Linked DNA regions of Homo sapiens. The protein of the gene in region 1 interacts with the protein of each later gene in a pairwise test. Each region holds a gene or a part of one and is shown on either strand. Other genes may lie near its edges.

Evidence for each region.
Region 2: the proteins of PTPRN (region 1) and TIMMDC1 interact in binary tests that used the Homo sapiens proteins (3 or more experiments, as listed by UniProt).
Region 3: the proteins of PTPRN (region 1) and UBQLN4 interact in a two-hybrid assay, tested with the Homo sapiens proteins (one large-scale study listed by BioGRID and IntAct).

Annotation. Positions count from the first base shown.
Region 1 is NC_000002.12:219,302,873-219,306,604, reverse strand, and holds part of PTPRN (receptor-type tyrosine-protein phosphatase-like N isoform 1 precursor), read left to right. Parts: intron 1-2,773; coding exon 2,774-2,870; intron 2,871-3,732. UniProt on the Homo sapiens protein: Plays a role in vesicle-mediated secretory processes. Required for normal accumulation of secretory vesicles in hippocampus, pituitary and pancreatic islets.
Region 2 is NC_000003.12:119,508,327-119,512,058, forward strand, and holds part of TIMMDC1 (complex I assembly factor TIMMDC1, mitochondrial isoform 1 precursor), read left to right. Parts: intron 1-3,732.
Region 3 is NC_000001.11:156,047,299-156,050,798, reverse strand, and holds part of UBQLN4 (ubiquilin-4), read left to right. Parts: intron 1-245; coding exon 246-508; intron 509-2,139; coding exon 2,140-2,298; intron 2,299-3,500. UniProt on the Homo sapiens protein: Regulator of protein degradation that mediates the proteasomal targeting of misfolded, mislocalized or accumulated proteins.

The DNA.
Region 1 (3,732 bases):
ATGGACATTAGCTTTACTCTGAGTAAAGAAGGAAACTATTACAAGATTTGGAGCTTGGGGGCACATGATCTGACTTACACTTGACAAGCATCACTTTTGCTGCTGTAGTGAGACTAGAATAGATGGAGTCAAGAGTTGGTGAGGGGGACCACTAAAAACCACCACAATAGGTTGCTCTGTCTATGGAGTGCCATTCTTTTGTTTCTTCACTTCTCTAATAAACTGCTTTCACTTTACTAAAACAAACAAACAAAAACTACCACAATAACTCAGATAAGAGATGAATGTGGATGGGGCCAAGGTGATTGCAGGGAAGGAATGAAGGATGAGAGAATTCTGCATTTATTTTTAAGGTAGTCAGCATTATTTCGTGAAATATTGGATATGGTTATAAAGAGAGGAGTCAAAGTTTTTTTGGGTTTATTTTGTTTGTTGATTGTTGTTGTTGTTGTTTGAGACAGAGTCTTGCTGTGTCACCCAGGCTGGAGTGCAGTGATGCAATCTCTTGCTCACTGGAACCTCCACCTCCCAGGTTCAAGTGATTCTCCTGCCTCAGCCTCCCGAGTAGCTGACATTACATGTGCGCGCCACCATGCCTGGCTAATTTTTGTATTTTTAATAGAGACAGGGTTTCACCATGTTGTCCAGGCTGGTCTTGAGCTCCTAACCTCAAGTGATCCATCTGCCTGGGCCTCCCAAAGTACTGGGATTACAGGTGTGAGCAACCGCGCTCAGCCAGGAGTCAAAGGTTTTATTTACTGAATAACTGAATCAGTGGAGATGTCACTAATTATAATGTGGAAACTTGCAAATGGTTCAACTTGGTGGGGGTGTTCAGCTTTGAATATGTTGAGTTTAAGATGTCTACTCAAGTGAAGCAGGAAGTTGAGTACATGAGACTGGATTCTGAGAGACAGAGTTCTCACCTGGAGATATAAATTTGGAATTCTTTGGCATATAGATGGTAATTACACCCATGAGGTGGATGAGATAACCAAAAGATTGAGTGTCTATTAAGAAGACCAAGGATCAAGTCCTAGATAATTCTTCTATTAAAAGGACCAGGCCAGGTATAGTGGCTCACACCTATAATCCCAATACTTTAGGAGGCTGGGGCAGGCAGGTCACGAGCTCAGGAGTTCGAGACCAGCCTGACCAACATGGTGAAACCTTGTCTCTACAAAAAATACAAAAATTAGCCAGGCATGGTGGCGAGCACCTGTAATCCCAGCTACTCAGGAGGCTGAGGCAGGAGAATCACTTGAACCTGAGAGGCAGAGGTTGTGGTGAGCCGAGATCGCACCACTGCACTCCAGCCTGGGTGATAGAGCGAGACTCCATCTCAAAAAAAAAAAAAAATGAGGACCAGGATAAAGAGAGGAACCATCAACTTCCTCTCAGGGAGACTGAGAAGGGGAAGCCAGTGGAGTAGGATTAAAAACAACAGTGTTCAGTGTCCCAGAAGCCAGGAGAAAGTGTATCAAGGAGGAGGAGTGACCAACAGTGTCAAATGATGATTACGGGATAAGTAAAATAAGATATGAAAATTGACCACTAGATTTGGACATGCAGACAAAGCTGCTCTTGATGAGAGCAGCTTTGGTAGAATAGTTGGGAATAAAATCCTGAATAAAGTGGATTAAGAGGGAATAGAAAGAAAGGAATTGGATACAGTCAGTATAGACAACTTTTTCTAGAAGTCTTGCTGCAAAGATATGGAGTGATCCCTAGAGAAGAAAGTGGGATCAAGCAGTATTTTTCTTAAGATGGAAGAAATTGCATATTGTTTGCATGGGAATAATGTGAATAATTCAGTAGAGAACAAAGGAAATTATGTAGGAAAGAAGAGAGAATTGCAAGGAGAATGTTCCTGAATAGGTGAGAGGGGATGAAATCTAGTGCTCAGAGGAACTGGCTTTAAATAGGAACACAGACAGCTCATCTAATGTGAATAAGCAAGGAGGCAGGTGTGGATGTTGGTAGATACCAGAATACAAGTTAAGAGCAGCACAGATTTTAAATCCAGAACTAGAGAAGAAAAAATGAGGGTGAAAAGTGGGAAATTATTCCTTTAGAATAAGTGACTGAACTTTCCTGAGAGCAGAGTTTTTTTGGGGGAAAGAGTCAAACAGGAGAGCTGTCTATGAATAAGATGATGATGATAATGGTGATGATGATGATGATGACGACAATGAAGATGATGATACATGTTTAAAACATGTGGATTATGCTTTAGAGTTTTCTAAGCACTTTGATTTCCCTGATCACACTTGATCTTCACAACAGCCCCCTGAAATATGTATCGTTTCCACTTTACAAACAGAGAAAGTTGAGGTTCAGGGTCAACACAAAGAATAATAACAATAGTAATAATAATTATGGTAATAGCATTTGTTAAAAGTTCACTACATGACAGGCACTATTCTAACCGTTTGATATGTATATGTGTTATTTTAATGATAATAACAATCCTAGGAGGTATAAATCCCCATTTTATTGATGAGGGAATTGAGGCTTGGAGAGGTTCAGCAACTTGCCCAAGGTTACATAATTCATCAGTAGCAAAGGCAGGATTCAAACCCAGGTGGTCTGGCTCCAATAGCTGTACCTGAGGGTGGGAAGAAGACAGCTCAGATCACCCACTGAGTTTGTCCCTCTACTCTGACAAACCCCATGAGCTGCAGGGCAGAGGGTACAGTTCTGATCCCCAGTGGTCCCCGTTACTGGATCCCCAGACTCCTGAACCAACTTACGCTGTCCTCTTTCCTGACAGGATTGTCCTGGCACGATGACCTCACCCAGTATGTGATCTCTCAGGAGATGGAGCGCATCCCCAGGCTTCGCCCCCCAGAGCCCCGTCCAAGGGACAGGTAGGCAGCCTTTCTCTACAACTCTAGCAATGGTGAGGCTGATGAATCTGTGGTTGTCCTAATTGATGGAGAGAAGGGGAAGGAAGTGGGCACCAAGGCCAGCATGCTGGGGCACAGGTAAAGAGGTGCAGGAATGGTCACTCTCTGACATGCTCACATGACCAAGAGGAGCTGAGCTCATCTCTAGGGATCCAGAAAAACGGGCATTTTTTGAATGTTTTGAAAAACATTGACATTGGCTACTTTAAAAGAAGCATCAATGTAGTCATCATGGGAGAAATTAGAATGCTGTTGGACTGAAGTTGTTCAATATTCCATTTCATTACTATGTGAATTTCTATATGACAGGAGCCACCATCATCTTTTTGTGGTTAGGGCCTCTAAAGGCATCATTCAGACTGCAAAGCAGAGGAAAGTAAATGAGGTTTAGGGAGCTCAGATGATGATACCAGGATGAAGATGGCATAGTGGTGGGGGGTGGAGGAGCAGTCCTGAATATTTGGACATATACTTGGAGAGCCAGGTGTGGGGACATGGCACACAGGGGCAACGGGGACAGCTGCAGCCACAGTTCATCTAGAGAAATTCCTGGTTGCCTTCCCCTGCTCCTGTTTGCCCCTTCTCCATCCCCAGCCTCATGATTACCCAGCCTTTGCAGTTGTTTCAGAGACTCAGCCATGCTCACCAGGGAGGCAGATACCTCTGCCCTCAGCTTGGCCCTCTGGTCCCTCCCCATTCCCACCCAGCCCATCTCTCTTCCCCTGAGGTCACTCAGTTTCTAAAGAGGTCAGGCCTGCTCTTAACCGCTGAGCCTGCCTGGCCCCGAATAGTTCTGCCTTGCAGGCTCTCTATGCCCTTTCCC
Region 2 (3,732 bases), on another chromosome or scaffold:
TCGTGGGTTTCTGCTCTAATAAGGTGTGATTCTCTGTATTTATCTGTCTGTCTCTCCTATTTTGAGGGCAGCAGTTTACCCATGATCTCACTTCTTTGGTGGATCTAAGAAGAGTTGTCAGTTTTTCCATTTGTTTAGCTTTTTACTTGTTGTTAGGAATAAGTGATAAACTCTAAACTTCTCACATGCCATACCAGAAACTGGAAGTCTCCCTTTCCTTTTTGCCCCACATCTTGACAAGCTGATAAGAAAGCCCAAGTGCTACCTTGGTTGACACCAGCAGGAAGTTTCAACCATGCAAGCTCAGGCCTACATGAGGGAGCTCTTGCTCTAGCCCCACCTTCTAAAACCACAAGCCAGTCAGTCAGCCTTCAGGTTCTCAAGTCATTTTGGGACATGCTTGGGATCTTGCCTTGCTCTCCCTGGAAAGCCTTATTATATGTGTAATAAACCTTTTGGTATCCTCTTAGTACCTCTTGGTACTTTGGCATTTCAATATCTGATTCAAATTTTGGGTGGGGGAGTTTATTGTCTCTGGAGGGTAACCACAACATCTTGCAAGTAGAAAATCCAAATGAATTAAGAAAACCATTGGAAGGCCAGGTGTGGTGGCTTATGCCTGTAATCCCAGCGATTTGGGAGGCTGAGGCAGGCAGATCTCTTGAGGTTGGGAGTTTGAGACCAGCCTGGCCAACATGGTGAAACCTCGCCTCCACTAAAAATACGAAAATTAGCTGGGCATGGTGGTGCACATCTGTAATCCCGGCTACTTGGGAGGCTGAGGCAGGAAAATGGCGTGAACCTGGGAGGCAGAGCTTGCAGTGAGCTGAGATCGCGCCACTGCACTCCAGCCTGGGCTACAGAGTGAGACTCCATCTCAAAAAAAAAAGTTAAGTATAATTTACTGTGCAACTCAGCAATTCCATGTCTTAGAATCTGCCCAAGATAAATGAAAACATGTCCACGCAAAGACTTATATATAAATTTTTATAGTGGTGTTATTCTCGACAGCCTCAAACTGAACCCATAAATTCATCAACTAGTGAATGGATAAATAAAATATGATATGTCCATTCACTTGAATATTTTCATCAGTAAAAAACTGATACATGCTGCGACATGAATAAAACTCAAAAACATTAAGTGAAAAAAGCTAGACACAAAAGACTTCATATTGTATAATTCTATTCATATGAAATGTCCAGAATAAGCAGATCTGTAGAGTTAGAAAGTACATTAGTGGATTGAGGTGAGATTGGGAACCAGGAGTAACCACAAATGGGCGTGGGGGATCTTTTTGTAATGATGGAATCATTTAAAAATTGGATTTTGGTGATGATTATATAGCAATGCAACTAAATTTTTTTTTTTTTTTTTGAGACGGAATCTTGCTCTGTCGCTCAGGCTGGAGTGCAGTGGTGCGATCTCGGCTCGCTGCAACCTCCACCTTCCGGGTTCAAGGGATTCTCCTGCCTCAGCCTCCTGAGTAGCTGGGACTACAGGCATATGCCACCATACCCGGCTAATTTTTGTATTTTTAGCAGAGACAGGGTTTCACCATGTTAGCCAGGATGGTCTCAATCTCCTGACCTCGTGATCCGCCCGCCTCGGCCTCCCAAAGTGCTGGGATTTCAGGCATGAACCACCGTGCCGGGCCACTAGATTTTTTTACTAAAAATTATTGAATTGTACATTTAGGTGAATTTTGTGTTATGTAAATTATACCTCAATAAAACTGTTAAAAATATATTAACACAGAAGGGGAAAAAGGCAGTGCTTTTAGATAGGAGGAAGCAAAATTTTCTGTATTTGTAGGTAATATTTTAAAAGATGACTTGAAAAATTATTGCTATCAGTAAAGTGTAAATATATAAATAGCCTTTTTATATTTCAGCAGTTACTTGAAAAGTAAAAAATTTTCTTAATAATAGTACTAAGAATGTAATATAATAAGGAATAAATTTAATAAATGTACAACTTCTCTGAAGAAAATTACAAATCATAAATAATAAAAATGGGGAAACAGTTGATAGTTAACCCAGTATTTTTCTACTTCATTTATAAATTGAAAGCAATTCAAATCAAAATTACAGGCTTTTTTAAAAAAACTTGATACAATGTCTAAATCATATCTAAAATGCTGATTATTAAGAGCATAGCAAAGACATTTCAGCAAAAAATAATGAGGGGTTCTTGCAACTGTAAAATTAAAATCTGTATAAAGTTACAATAAAGAGGACAATAAAGAGGTATTGGTAGATCTGTGGAATGGAATTGCAAGGTCAGGAACAAAACCAAGCACCCACAAATAAGTAAAGGTGATACTTCACATTCGTGGTTTAAGAATAGACCATTCTTGGGCTGGAACAGTTATTAACTATTTGGAAAGAAATTATAACTATATTCAGTACAACAAAATTAGTTAACATTTATTATGGTGCTTATGTAAAAAAATCCATAAAAGATTGGGGAAAATATAGAAGTAAATGTGTCTCTGATTTCTGAGTAGGAAGATATATAAATGTGTACATATACAAGTTGACCTTTGGACAACACTGAAAACAGCTTTGAACACAATAGCAATGCTGACATCTGCCCTGTGCAGTTGAAAAATCCACATATAACTTTTGACTCCCCCAAAACTTAACTACTAATGGCCTGCTGTTATCCAGAGGCCTTACCAATAACATAAACAGTTGCTTCACACATAAATAGATTGGTGTCTACATATATTTTATGCACTTAAAGACATACATTTTTCTTAATTTTTTTTGATATTTCTAGGCTAGACAGTTTATCTGCGAGTTTTTTCAAATTATTGCACATTTCCAAAACATTTTTCAATATATTTATTGAAAAAAATTCATGTGGCCTGGCATGGTGGCTCATGCCTGTAATCCCAGCACTTTGGGAAGCTGAGGCGGGTGGATCACTTGAGATCAGGAGTTCGAGACCAGCCTGGCCAACATGGTGAAACCCTGTCTCTACTAAAAAATAAAAAAAATAGTTGTGGTGGCATGCACCTGTAGTCCCAGCTACTTGGGAGACTGAGGTGGGGGAGAATAGCTTGAACCCGGGAGGCAGAGGTTGCAGTGAGCCAAGATCATGCCATTGCACTGCAGCCTGGGCAGCAGAGTGAGACTCCATCTTAAAAAAAAAAAGAAAAAAGAAAAAAAAATTTGTGCGTAAGTAAATCTGCACAGTTCAAACTCATGTTTATCAACTGTATGTATTTTTAAGCATAAGAACTAAGAAACTAGGAAACAGGAAACACAGTTTTGGCCACATAAAATTTTTAAACCTATCTATGTCATAAATACTATGGAAGACATTAAATGTAAACAATGCCAAAATAATAGTATGTGCAGGTAATGGATAAAAGCCCTAATATATCAAAAAGAAAGGATAGCTCAGTTGAAGACTGGACAAAGGACATGAATTTGTAATTCACAGACGTACCACAAATAACTTGTAAACCTAGGGAAAAACAACTTTTTTCTACTAATCAGAGAAATGCAACTTAAAAATTACATACCACTTCTGGCCTATCAAATTGGAAAAAATAAACTAAGAGAATGCAGAAGACTAGATTACTTGCATACTTTTATTTGGAAAATAAGTTTATGCATCCTTTTTGAATAGCAGTTTAGTAATTTAAGTCAAAAGCCTTAAAAATGTTTATACTTATACCTTTTGGCCCAGAAATTTCATTTCTGTGAGTTTGTCCTAAGG
Region 3 (3,500 bases), on another chromosome or scaffold:
GCCACTCATTCAACAGACCATTGCTGGTTGCCTTCTCTCTGCTCAGTTCTATGTTTGGCACAGCCTCAGTCTAGTAGGCTCACATTTTTTTGCCAGCAGTGGATCAGGGCCGGGCTGTGGGAATGACAGGAAGAGGGACATGTGAGAAGCATTTGGGGCGTGTCCTGGAGATCTGAATTCAGTGGCTCTGGCTAAGTGAGGACACTGTTCTTGTGGCAGACTGTGACCCTGCCCCCTTCCCACAGCTGGCTTTGGGGGCATCCTGGGGCTGGGCAGCCTAGGCCTGGGCTCTGCCAACTTCATGGAGCTGCAGCAGCAGATGCAGCGGCAGCTGATGTCCAATCCTGAGATGCTGTCACAGATCATGGAGAACCCCCTGGTCCAGGATATGATGTCTAACCCTGATCTGATGCGTCACATGATTATGGCCAACCCCCAGATGCAGCAGTTGATGGAGCGGAACCCTGAGATCAGCCACATGCTCAATAACCCTGAACTCATGAGGCAGGTGAGTATGAGAGGGCTGGAGAGCTGGAGGACACTGGTGCCCAGCCGTGCCCTGCCCAGCCTTTCCTACTTTGTCCTACATTGATTTGTTCATTCGTGTATTCAGCAGTTTTGAACACTGGAGGTACAGGGATGAAAAGACAGGCCTAGCTTTTCAGGAATTCCAGGTGTCAAAGGGAAGTAGGACAAGTAAACCGGCAATTAGAATACAATGTGGCCATTGCTATCAGAAGGATAATCATGGGATCCTCTAGGAGCATAGAGAAGAGCTCCTGACCCTACCCTAAGGCTTAGAGGAGGCCTTAAGAAATGTCACCGAGCTGAGACCCAAAGGAGGAAGACGAACCAGGGGGAAAGAAAGAAGAACATTCAGGGCTGAGGGACAGCAAATATAAAGGCCTGGGAGTGAAAGATAGTAGGTTGTTTGGGGAGCACTGTGGCTGGGCAGGGCCCAGTTGGGAATGGAGAACCAGGGGAGACTGTTGTGATGTTGCTCTTTGGGAGTTCCAGCTCATGGTCCGCTCCACCAGAGGACCAAGGTAGATGATCTTCCCAGCAGGGCTGTGGACACCAGTGCTGGACTCACCAGAAGATAATTTATGTAAGGTCAAGGACTTGTGAGTGTTTTGTTCACTGTCTAGAACAGTGCCTGGTGCGTGGTAGTCATGCAGTAAATATTTATTGAATGAATGAATTACGGAACAAGAGATCAGAGTTCTGGGAAGCTGGGCATATCAGTTATAAAGGAGTCTTAGAAAAGGCAAGTGTGGAGCACATTTGGGAAGGAGAGGGAAGGTATTCCAAGTTGAATGGGAACAAGTAGTTATACTTATTTTTCTGTGATGAACTCCCCCGGGGTTGACATAGCCACCCCTTATTGAGATTGTGCCATTGGCTCCATAGAAGAAAGCCCCCATCTTCAGTGTTTCTCAAGGTTCAGGCAGAGCAAAGACTTGGGGGTGGGAATTACAGGGTGTCAGTAGCTTTATTCCAGCTTGAACGCTTTCCTTCCCCAACTTGCAGTCATTTACCAGGAATCACAGTATGGTCTTGGACAGACCAACCAACCTGGCTTTGAACACTGTCTTCACCACTCAGTGACTGTGTGTCCCAGGGCAGCAAGTCAATTAACATCTCTGAGCCTATTTGCTCATCTGCAAAATAGGGACAGAAATAAACACCTGAGATGGTTATTGTGGAGATTACATGACTTGAATTCCGTAAGCTACTTGGCCCTGTGCCCATATACAGTAGGTTCTCAGTAGATGTTAATTTTCTCTTCTGCCTCCTCCCCTTTCTTTCTGTGTCTCTTCTGACTCAGTTTCCTTGTGCACCCTGACACTTCTTTGGACACTCTGAGCCTAAGGGAGGGAAGCTGCTGCCCTCACTTCAGCTGGGATCATTGTCCTCCACTAGAAAAAGCCAACCAAAATACCCACAGGGAGGCGGGCTTGGAGCCAAGATTACAGTAGAGGAAGGAAGTCCAGTTTACTCTACTCCCTGTCACTGTGGGGCAGTTCCTGGGCCCTGGTCCTGATCCTGATACAGACCCCCCTTCCTCAAGGCCCACCCTTTTCCTAGGTTGGTGCTCCCCTGGTTCCGGGGCCCATTTTGTCTCTCTCCCTTGATCAGACAATGGAGCTTGCTCGGAATCCAGCCATGATGCAAGAGATGATGCGGAACCAGGACCGGGCCCTGAGCAACCTTGAGAGCATCCCTGGAGGGTATAATGCCCTCCGCCGCATGTACACGGACATCCAGGAGCCCATGTTCAGTGCTGCCCGGGAACAGGTGGGATCAAGGGCCAGGGTAGTGGGTTGGGCTGTCTGGGCTCGAGATTCCCTACCCCCACCCCAGGCAAACCTGGGCCTGCTCTTCTTTCTTTCCCCAGTCCCCTGAGGGGTGGGCCTTGGCTTGAAGGCAGTTCTCAACAGTACATATCCGGGGATGGTCCATTTTGGCATGGACAAATATAAGCAGAGGTCCTTGTGGAAGTGGTTGAGGCATAGCATCCAAGGAACTTGACATCCTGACAAACTTCTTGTACCAGGGGCTCAAAGGTCACGTGGCAGGCCTGAGGTCAGACGCCAGCCCTGATACAGCATGTCTCAAGTATGGTCCATGGATCACCTGCATCAGAATCACCTGGGGACCTTGTTGATAATGAGAATCCTGGTCCCCACCTTTGAGCTACTTATTGAATCCATTTCTGGGGTTGGGCCCCAGGATTATACACTTTTAAAAATGCTTTATGAATCCTATTCAAGTACACACAAAAAAATAGATAAAAATGTAACATTCTTTTTTTTTGTTTTTAATCAATGTTGCCCTAACATGTTGCCATATATAATTTCAGTGCCCTTTTGGTTCTTTCTTTCTTTCTTTTTTTTTTTTTTTTTTGAGATGGAGTCTCGCTCTATCGCCCAGGCTGGAATGCAGTGGCGCAATCTCGGCTCACTGTAACCTCCGCCTCCCGGGTTCAAGCAATTCTCCTGCCTTCTCCCTGGTGGCTAAGACTACAGGTACATGCCACCACGCCCGGCTAACTTTTTATATTTTTAGTAGAGATGGGGTTTCACCATGTTAGCCAGGATGATCTTGATCTCCTGACCTCATGATCCGCCCACCTTGGCCTCCAAAAGTGCTGAGATTACAGGAGTGAGCCACCGCGCCTGGCCATGGTTCTTTTTAAAAATTTAATTTTACATTAAACACATTCTATGTTTGTATGTTTGAAAATGCAAAAGTTGGCCAGGCGCAGTGGCTGACACCTGTAATCCCAGCACTTTGGGAGGCTGAGGTGGGCGGATCACGAGGTCAGGAGATCGAGACCATCCTGGCTAAAATGGTGAAACCCCATCTCTACTAAAAATACAAAAAATTAGCCGGGCATGATGGCACATGCCTGTAGTCCCAGCTATTTGGGAGGCTGAGGCAGGAGAATCGCTTGAACCCGGGAGGCAGAGGTTGCAGTGAGCCAAGATCGTGCCACT